Linked DNA regions of Homo sapiens: regions 1 and 2 are each linked to region 3. The links come from fine-mapping of genetic effects on gene expression. A gene starts in region 3. Each other region holds a variant in brackets. All regions are shown on one strand. Distances are between the middles of the regions.

The links.
Region 1: its variant is fine-mapped to the expression of HDAC11 in whole blood (INTERVAL, PIP 0.96).
Region 2: its variant is fine-mapped to the expression of HDAC11 in cerebellum (GTEx, PIP 0.95).

What each region holds. Positions count from the first base shown.
Region 1 is chr3:13,385,089-13,387,842 of GRCh38, reverse strand. NUP210 (nucleoporin 210) reads left to right here. Exons shown (of 40, transcript NM_024923.4): 6 at 1,436-1,568. Among named protein-coding and RNA genes, the nearest start is that of NUP210, 34 kb to the left of the region's middle. The variant A/G (reference allele first, on the strand shown) is at 1,177.
Region 2 is chr3:13,067,226-13,069,979 of GRCh38, reverse strand. The region is part of intron 1 of IQSEC1 (IQ motif and Sec7 domain ArfGEF 1); the gene reads left to right. Among named protein-coding and RNA genes, the nearest start is that of IQSEC1, 4.8 kb to the left of the region's middle. RefSeq lists enhancers at 1-148, 159-238. The variant C/G (reference allele first, on the strand shown) is at 1,556.
Region 3 is chr3:13,479,068-13,481,821 of GRCh38, reverse strand. It overlaps HDAC11 (histone deacetylase 11), which reads right to left and starts at 1,516. Exons shown (of 10, transcript NM_024827.4): 1 at 1,473-1,516; 2 at 428-576. The coding sequence starts at 1,474. It overlaps HDAC11-AS1 (HDAC11 antisense RNA 1), which reads left to right and starts at 1,769. Exons shown (of 2, transcript NR_046690.1): 1 at 1,769-2,179. RefSeq lists enhancers at 795-1,451, 2,101-2,160 and a silencer at 1,151-1,640.

The DNA of each region.
Region 1 (2,754 bases), 94 kb after region 3:
CCCCTGCCCCAGCCGATCCCATGTCTTCCTGGCCTCACCAGCATCCCATTCTTAGGGTAGTGGGGGTATGCCAGAGGAAAGGAGAGTGAGGAGTGGGTCTATCCAACGTCCTGGTTCCTTCTCTGTCCCTGTGGACTAATGTCCACCCAACCAGTGCCTCGTTTTGAGCTGCAACCCTGAGATATTTTTGTTTGCCTAGTGTCTGGAGCACAGGCAGGAACACTGTGGTACTTGGCCTGCCATTTAATTTTGTAAAGTGGCAGACGGAGAAATCCTCTTCTGATTCACTCTCTGTAGTGGGTTTGCTGCATCTGGGAGTCCTGGAAAGTTATGGAAACATGGGGACATGCCCTGTTATAGGGGCTAATCCCGTAGGACTCTGCAGGTAGTACTTAGAGACAGTTTGCTCCTGTGTAGGGCCCAGGCTGGGATGGGGTACAGCCACACTGCTAAGCTGGAAAGGCAGACTTGCTGTCCTGCCCATAGACATTCAGTGGCCCTCCCTGCCTGCGTGCTGGAAAGCAGCCGCCACAGAGCCCTGCCCATGGTGGTGCCCAATACACTTGTCTGTTTTGGACACACTGAAGATATTAACTAGTTGTTAAGTGAGGAAAGCTGTCAGTTGTGACAGCAGGCTTAAAGGAGAATCCAAAGAGTTGCCACAGGACACCAGGCATGCTGAACTGAACTCAGAAAAATGTAGAATGCCCACACCCACAGGAGGGCAGTCAGCTGCGCCTTCACCTGAGGAAATGTTTTTGTGTTTCTGTGGACAAGAATCATTTGCTGTGTTGTCGCTTTTCTACAATGTACACTGCCATCAAACAGGCCAAAGACAATGAAAGGTGCAGGCCTCTGGAGAATCCAGTACCTAAGGGTGCACTAGACAGGGCACCTAGTGATCTTTCTCCCATTGCGAAGTTGCCCACGGGTTTTCCTGAGGAGGCAGGAGGTCACAGGTCGGGGGTGAAAGGCGGGCAGGGGAAGGGGTCAAGGAATAGCAGCCAAGGCTCATCACAGCATATGCCTCTCCTGCTTTTTATGTTGGCCTGGGGCTTCTCAAGTTCCCTGGACCTTGGGCTTTTGTGTGGAGAGAACTTGAGCTCCCGGTGGCCATAGCATCCCTAGAGTTCACCCTGGCTCTCCTCTTTTACTCCAGTTTAATCATGGTTTCAC[A/G]TAGAGATAAACCATGCACAATGGGCAGTCAGTGTGAGGGCTCAGTCTGGGTAATGCCCTTTTTCTGGGTGCCTGCTATACTTATGGAGCTCCCCTGGGACCTCTGGGTTCTGAAAGTGAGGATTTGGGAATGATATCTTGTTTCTTTCCTCTTAACTTCCCTATTCCCATGTTTAAAACATCTCTTTCTCTTGCTCACACCACCACTTCCCCATTCCCTGTCCGCACCTCACTTTGTCTGCCTTTTCTTTATGCCAAGAATGTACGCCCTGCAGAAGTCAGGCTGCTGATTTTGGAAAACATCCTTCTGAACCCGGCCTATGACGTCTACCTGATGGTGGGAACCTCCATTCACTACAAGGTGCAGAAGATCAGGCAAGGGAAAATTACAGGTGTGTCATTGGCTCTGCCATCATGACAGATGCTTCCTTCCTCCTTTTTTTATTGTGGTTACATACATGTAACAAAATTTACCATCTTAACCATTTTTAAGTGCTCCATCAGGTAGCATCAAGTACATTCACACTCTTCTGCAGCCATCACCATCATCCATCCACAGAACTCGTTCATCTTCCCAAACTGAAGCTCTGCATTGTTAAACACTAACTCCCCTTCACCCTCTCCCAGCCCTTGGCACTCATCACTCTATTTCCTGTCTCTGTGAATGTGACTACTCTGGTTACCTCATGTACGTGGAATCATATAGTATTTATTTTTTTGTAACTGGCTTATATCACTTTTTTCCTAGCCTGATGTCTTCAAGTTTCATCCATGTTGTAGCAAGGGTTGGAATTCCCTTCCCTTTTAAGGCTGAATAGTGCTCCATTGTGTGGATGGATAGACCACATTCTGTTTACCCATTCATCTACCCATTCATCCATCAGCAGACACTTGGGTTGCTTCCACTTTTTGGCCATTGTGAGTAATGCTGCTGTGAACATAGTGAGCAAATATCTGAGTCCCTGCTTTCAAATTCTTTGGGGTATATGCCCTTTCAGTGGCAGCAAGTCCAGAGCTGTGGGCTTTGTGTTTAGCTGGGCTTTGCCCCGGTCTGCAACTGACAACTGAACAAACTTGGACAAGCCACTGCCCTTCTCCAGGGCTGTTTCTCATTGGAGGCTTTGAGGCCTTTCTGCCTGGGCTGTGAGGACAAAATGAATCAATAGGAGTGTAGTTGTACTGTGTACTTGTGTTTAGATAGTGACGGTTCTCAATGGAGCGCCAGTCCTCCTAAGGATCATTATCATTTTGTTCAAAGCTGTGTATGTTTAACATCCAGAGCATAGGACCTGAAGGGTCATGGGCATAAGAGCTCTCAGGTCCAGTCCATCCGAGGGCCTCAGTCAGGTGAGTTTGCCAGGTTGGTAGGTTGGTTCCACCTGTGATACAGGGTGTCACTTAAGAGGCAGGCAGATACACACTTCAGCATAAGAGCAACTTGAGTGGTGTCTCCAGTTGATGGGAGGTGCTGCATTGTTTAAAGTCCTGCTCAACTGAGAGCAGTCACCTGGTTGGTCATTCCTGTGTGGCAGAACGCTTTCTCTCAGGAGGACAAAAAAACTGAAGACAGGCGCTCCT
Region 2 (2,754 bases), 410 kb after region 3:
CGTGAAGGTGGCACACTGGATGGGATAAAGGATGACAACAAAAGCAGGAGAAGATTTCTTAACCCAATGGGGGAACATCAGGAGGCTTCCAAGAATCAGACCCTGAATCAAACTTGCTAACACCTGAGGTCATTGCTGTACTGGCAGCTTCATGAATGGTGTCTGAATGAAGGATGGCCCTCAATTCTGTAACTACAGCATCCTTTTCATCATCTCTGCAAGGGGCCCCTCTGTCCTCATGGGCATGTCACATCCTGTCACTTGAACACAGGAAGTGAGGCTGTGAGGAGTTTGTGGTGTGTGAGATGTGGGCTGCTTGGCCAGGCCAGTGGAGCACTCGCCTACCCATGCCTGTTCAATCATTCATTCACTGCCTGGAACTGTCCCGACCCCTCTCTTCCTTCTGTTTGGGGGACATGATGACCTGCCGGCCCCCGCAGGAGGCAGTGGTCTCCCTCTGGTGGGATGCCCTGACCTGCTGCTTGCAGTGGGGCCTTCATGAAGGAAGCGAAGCCCTGGTGGGTCTCCCCTAGACAGAAGAAGGGACACTGGTGGGACTGGGCCTGGAACATTCCACACACACACACACCTCCAAGAAACTTGTGCATTGAGCCTTCACCATTATCACCTTGGCTGGGTCAGTTCTGCAGGCACAGTTATCAGCATCTGCTGGACAGTGGGCCTGGGCTGGATGCCAGGGAAGAGCAGCCCCAGCCCACCGAGAGAGATGCAGGGAGGGAACCGGAGGCCCAGTCTTCACTCAAGCACGTGTGATGACCGGTAGCCTTTCTTGCCATGCAGTGATCACTATTAAAAATGGTTATTATGAATGACCCACACAGCACTGGGCTATTTTCCAAGAATGCTGTAGCATCTATCCACCCTTTACAGCCCCAGGAAGCCACTGGGCAGGTCCTGGTTATAACTCAGAAAGACTGGGATATGCAGCCAAGGCCGCATAACCAGGCCTGGGCCTTCACTTCCCTGCCTTCAGCTAGTGTTCATGGTGCACCTGCTGTATGTCCAGCTCAGTGCTGGGAACCACTGAGAGGGTGCTGCTCTCAGGGGATACTGCAGGGGAGAAGGACACAGAGAAATGAAGAAGATAGAGAGCCCAATGGGAATGGATTGAGTGAACTGTGTGGCCACTCAGGAAGTGAGGAGGGCTTCCTGGAGGAGGTGACCTTTGAACAGAAATCTAAATGATTAGGAGGAACTATCCAGGAGAAGAGTGGGGGCCCCGGGTGCAGGGGACAGCAAGTGCAGAGGCCCTGGTGAGGGCATGCTTGACAGGATTGGGCCACAGAGGGAGGATGGTGTTGCTGGAGCAGAGTGGACCAAGAAGAGAGGTAAAGGGGCTGGGGCTGTTCATGGAGGCCCTGGAGTAAAGAGTCACATCGTCATGCTGGAAGCTAAAGATATGAAGAAAAGACTGGGGGTTAAAGAGGTTGGGGAACTGCATTGGGGCCTCCCAACCATGAGGGGGTGTCATGAGCCTGGGGCCTGAAAATTCAGAGGCCTGGCCACTGCCTCTGCCCCTTTGCAAGGCCAGGGC[C/G]CAGGCCTGCTCCCCGTTGTATACCCAAAGCTGGCATGGCCTGGCATGATGTTGGGACTTAGAGACCCTGTCTGGGGTGAATTTTAGAGACTGAGAGGAACAGACTTTTCTGGTAGTTGCTGGACAGGCAGGGCAACAAGTAGCGTCTGCTTAGGCAAGCACCTACCTCTGACCCACCTGCCACCATCTTCCACCAAAGGATCCGTGAAGGACAGGTCCGACATCCACATCCTCCCTGGGCCTCAGAGGAAGCGTAAGGCCTGGATTGGCCCCAGCCCCGGGGCAGGACCCTGCTGGGCCTTGGTCAGCCCATGGTCAGCATCTTTTCCCAAGTGCCCCAAGCACAGGCACTGGGCCTAAGCCTCCTGCTCTATGTGGTGGGGCTGATACTCCCCTTCCAGGGTTTGCCTGCGGGCCAGCAAGCAGGCTGGGCCCCAAGCTCAACAAGTGTCACGCCATCCTTGTCCCTCCCTGGAGGCCCTTTGTTGAAGCCCCCCAAGGCCCCCTGTGCCCCTAAAGGACCTGGCACCATCTCCTCAGGGCCCTGGCCTGCCTCCTTGCACTGACTCACTTGGTCTTTAAGAATAACAACAAAAGTGCCTTATCTTGTTGAATCCCACAACTCTGGCAGGGTGGTTGTGTGCCATCCTGTTTTCCAGGGAAGTGCCTTGCTCAGGGTCACAGCCAGTGAGTCTGCCTGACTCCAGACCCTGCTCCTCCCCAGCCAGATCTGTGTGCCCTTGTGGGTGGGGCCAGTGGGCACCCAGTGCACAGAGATGGGATGAGGAAGGGAAGGAGGGTGGTCAGGGGGCCCAGGTGTTGGGGGACCTGACGCCTTACCCTGAGCAGGTTCCAGATCTCTTGGCCGCAAGGCTCTGTCCCTCCCCACCCCTTCCCCACTGCATGCACTACCTGGAATGTGTTGGTCACTGCCACTGTGGCATGGCTGCCCCCAGCCTGCTTGTCCTGGGTGCTGAGGGTACTTGTCCCACAGTGGCTGGGAGCCCCCCACCCAATGCCTGTGGACCAGACCAGTTTTGTCACCACCAGTGGGGGCTTAGGAGGCGTTGCTCCTGGGTGCTGGCTAAGCTGCTCCCAGGCTTACCTTAGAGCCTGCTGCTTTCCCCCAAAAGCCTACTGACGACACAGCCCCCGTCTGCCCTTCCCGCTCTTTCCAGCCTGTTGGATGGCTCCTGTTC
Region 3 (2,754 bases):
CTGGACTGGAATTGGGTGCACATGTTTCCTAATCATTCTAGGACACAATTTCCCCCATCTGTAATCAAGAGAGGTGCGGTGGAGGTGCTCTACCTCCTGACTCTCTGAACCTTAGGAAATGGACTCCTCCAAGCTTCACCTTCCCTGTGCCCATCAGTAATCAGCTACCTTTCCACTAGGCCTCTTGGGCAGAGGCAGGACTTAGGCCCACAGGATGGGGAGCCAGGGAGAGTCTGAGTCAGGGACATCATATCGTGATTAGGAGTCTGTGTTGGAAAAATCATTTTGGGCGGAAGCATGGGTGGAAGGCCATCCGAGGGCTGAAACTGAAGATGGGAGAGAGCCTGAGGCTTATGTTGGGGATGAGGACGGAGAGGACAGGTGGGTTGGAGGAAGCAGATGAGAGTCCAAGGGGGACCTTCCATACCTTTTAGGAAATTGATCACTTTGCCCCATTTTCCGGCATCAAAGGGATGCAGCTTCTCCAGGCCCATGAAGGTGATGTTGTAGCGCGGCGAGTACACGATTGGCCAGCGTGTCTCTGGCACATGCTGGTACAGCTGGGTTGTGTGTAGCCTACCGTGTGGAAAAAGACAGACGCACAGCTGGGGCAGCCTCGGCAGAAAGCAGCTCCCTCCCGAGCCCGCCTGGACTGACCCACCAGCCATTGCCCAGCACCACTAGCCCCTCAGCCGCAGACAAGGGCCCCTCAACAACAGCTGCTTAAACTGGCTGCCTTTCCCGGAACCCAATTCCAATCCAGTCCTCACAGCAGCCCTGGGGGTAGGCACCACAATCGCACCAGAGGCTCAGAGAGCAGACCAGGTGTGCCCAAGGTCACAGTGCAGGTCTGTGGAGAAGCAGGCGTGCACTCAGGTGTGTCTGGCTGCAAGGCCTCCGCGCATCACCTCTGCACCGTAATAAATGCCCCCACAGCTGTGTGGCACAAGGCTTCGGCTGCAAAATGTGTGGCTGTTGTGAGGACTCAGAGAATGCAACTGAGGAGCTGAGCACAGTAAGCACTCAGAAACCCAAGTCGGGACCCAACCTGAGCCAGGGCGGGGGGCGGGGATCCCCTGACCCCGCTGCGCTGCTAACCCTTCCCATCACACCCTGGCAGTCGTCACCCAGAGACAGAAATCCGCCCCAGTGGCTGCCTCCGTGGGGGCGTCCGCGTAGCCAGGGGGCTGGGCAGCGCAGACGTCAGACCCGCGCACATCGCCCGACCGCTCCGGGTCCGGGCCCAGGCCCGCGGCCGGCGCGCGTCCCTCGGGCCACCGAGCAGGGGCGCGGGGCTGGCCTGGCGCGCCGGGAGGGCCTGGAAACACCCGTCCCGAGCGTCCCTCACCCCTCACCAGCAAATCTGGGCCCTTACCTGGCGCGCCCGCCCGGCCGTCCCCGCCCTCGCCCTAGCGCGCCCGCCCACCGGGACCCCTGGGAGCCCACCCCCGCCCTCGCCCCGCGGCACTCACATCCCGGGGCCGGCCCTCCCAAAGCTGGCCGCAGCTCCGCGACCGGGCGGGGCGGGGCGGGGCGCGGGTGGGGCCAGCCCAGGACACGCCCCCGGGCTTAGCCGCGTCCTCTGGGGGCAGAGCTCTGGCCGATTTGGCCCGCCCCGCCAGTGTTGCGACACAGAGAGCCTGCCCGCAGGAAGGCCACCCCCAACGCCCATCAAGCCCGAAGTCCCGCCTCCGCAGGCAAATACCCGGTGGAATCCCGCCTGGTTCGGAAGCTCCGCCCCCTGGCGGGAGGGCCAAGCGGGTTTCACCCCGGCCTCGCGGAAGGGGCGCGACCACCGTATGTCCTGTTCCTGCGCTTCCCAAGCTGGGTAGAAACGGCGAGAGGCTGGGGGTTAGAAACGACAGGTTCCCGGCGGGCTGTGCCGGGGCTTCGCTGTGTGACCTTGGGCTGGCGTCTGGGCTCTCTGGGCCCTTGTTTCCGCGAGTTAAACGTAGGGGCGGGGGAGTTTCTCTGGCCCTGCCGCCTGTGACCTAAGGAGCCCCGTGACCTCTCCGACCCGAGCCCACCCCCGGCCCAGTCTGCGAGCAGCTCCGGGACAAGCACTCCCGGCGAAGACATGTAGGCTCTCAGAGCCTGCGTTTCCCTCTGTAGAGCAGGCCTAGTTACTGTCTTCAGGGTGCACGCGTCTCCGTCCCCGACCCGCACCCTCACCGCCGGGGTAAGCTGAGCCAGGCCCAAGCGACAGCTGGGGTTGTCCGTGGGGCTGCAACCCAGGAGGAGGCCCCAACAATAGAGCCCCAGAGGACGGAGACAATGGGCCTCTCTGTCGGCCCAGCCGTCCCCGCCATCCAAACAGAAGCAGCTGACGGAGGACTGCCGGGCTGGGATCCCTGGGCTCCGCGGGGGCGGCTGTGTGCCAGGGCGGGGCACAAGGGAAGCGCACAGACGTTTGAAGAGGGGCCCCCGTGTGCCTGCCATGATTGCATGATGGCATCTGAGCCTCACAACCTAATCCTGAGAAAGGTGCCATAATCACCCCAACTTTATCTTGAGGGAACTGAGGTTCGGGCCTGGATTAAACCCAAACTCGGCCACCCGCCAGCATAGTGGCTTTGGGCAGGTTGCTTCAGCCTTCTGGTCCTTCATGTCTGCATCTGAAAATGAAGTACTGGGCCGGGTGCGGTGGCTCACGCCTGTAATCCCAGCACTTTGGGAGGCCGAGGCGGGTGAATCACCTGAGGTCAGGAGTTCGAGACCATCCTGACCAACATGGTGAAACCCCGTCTCTACTAA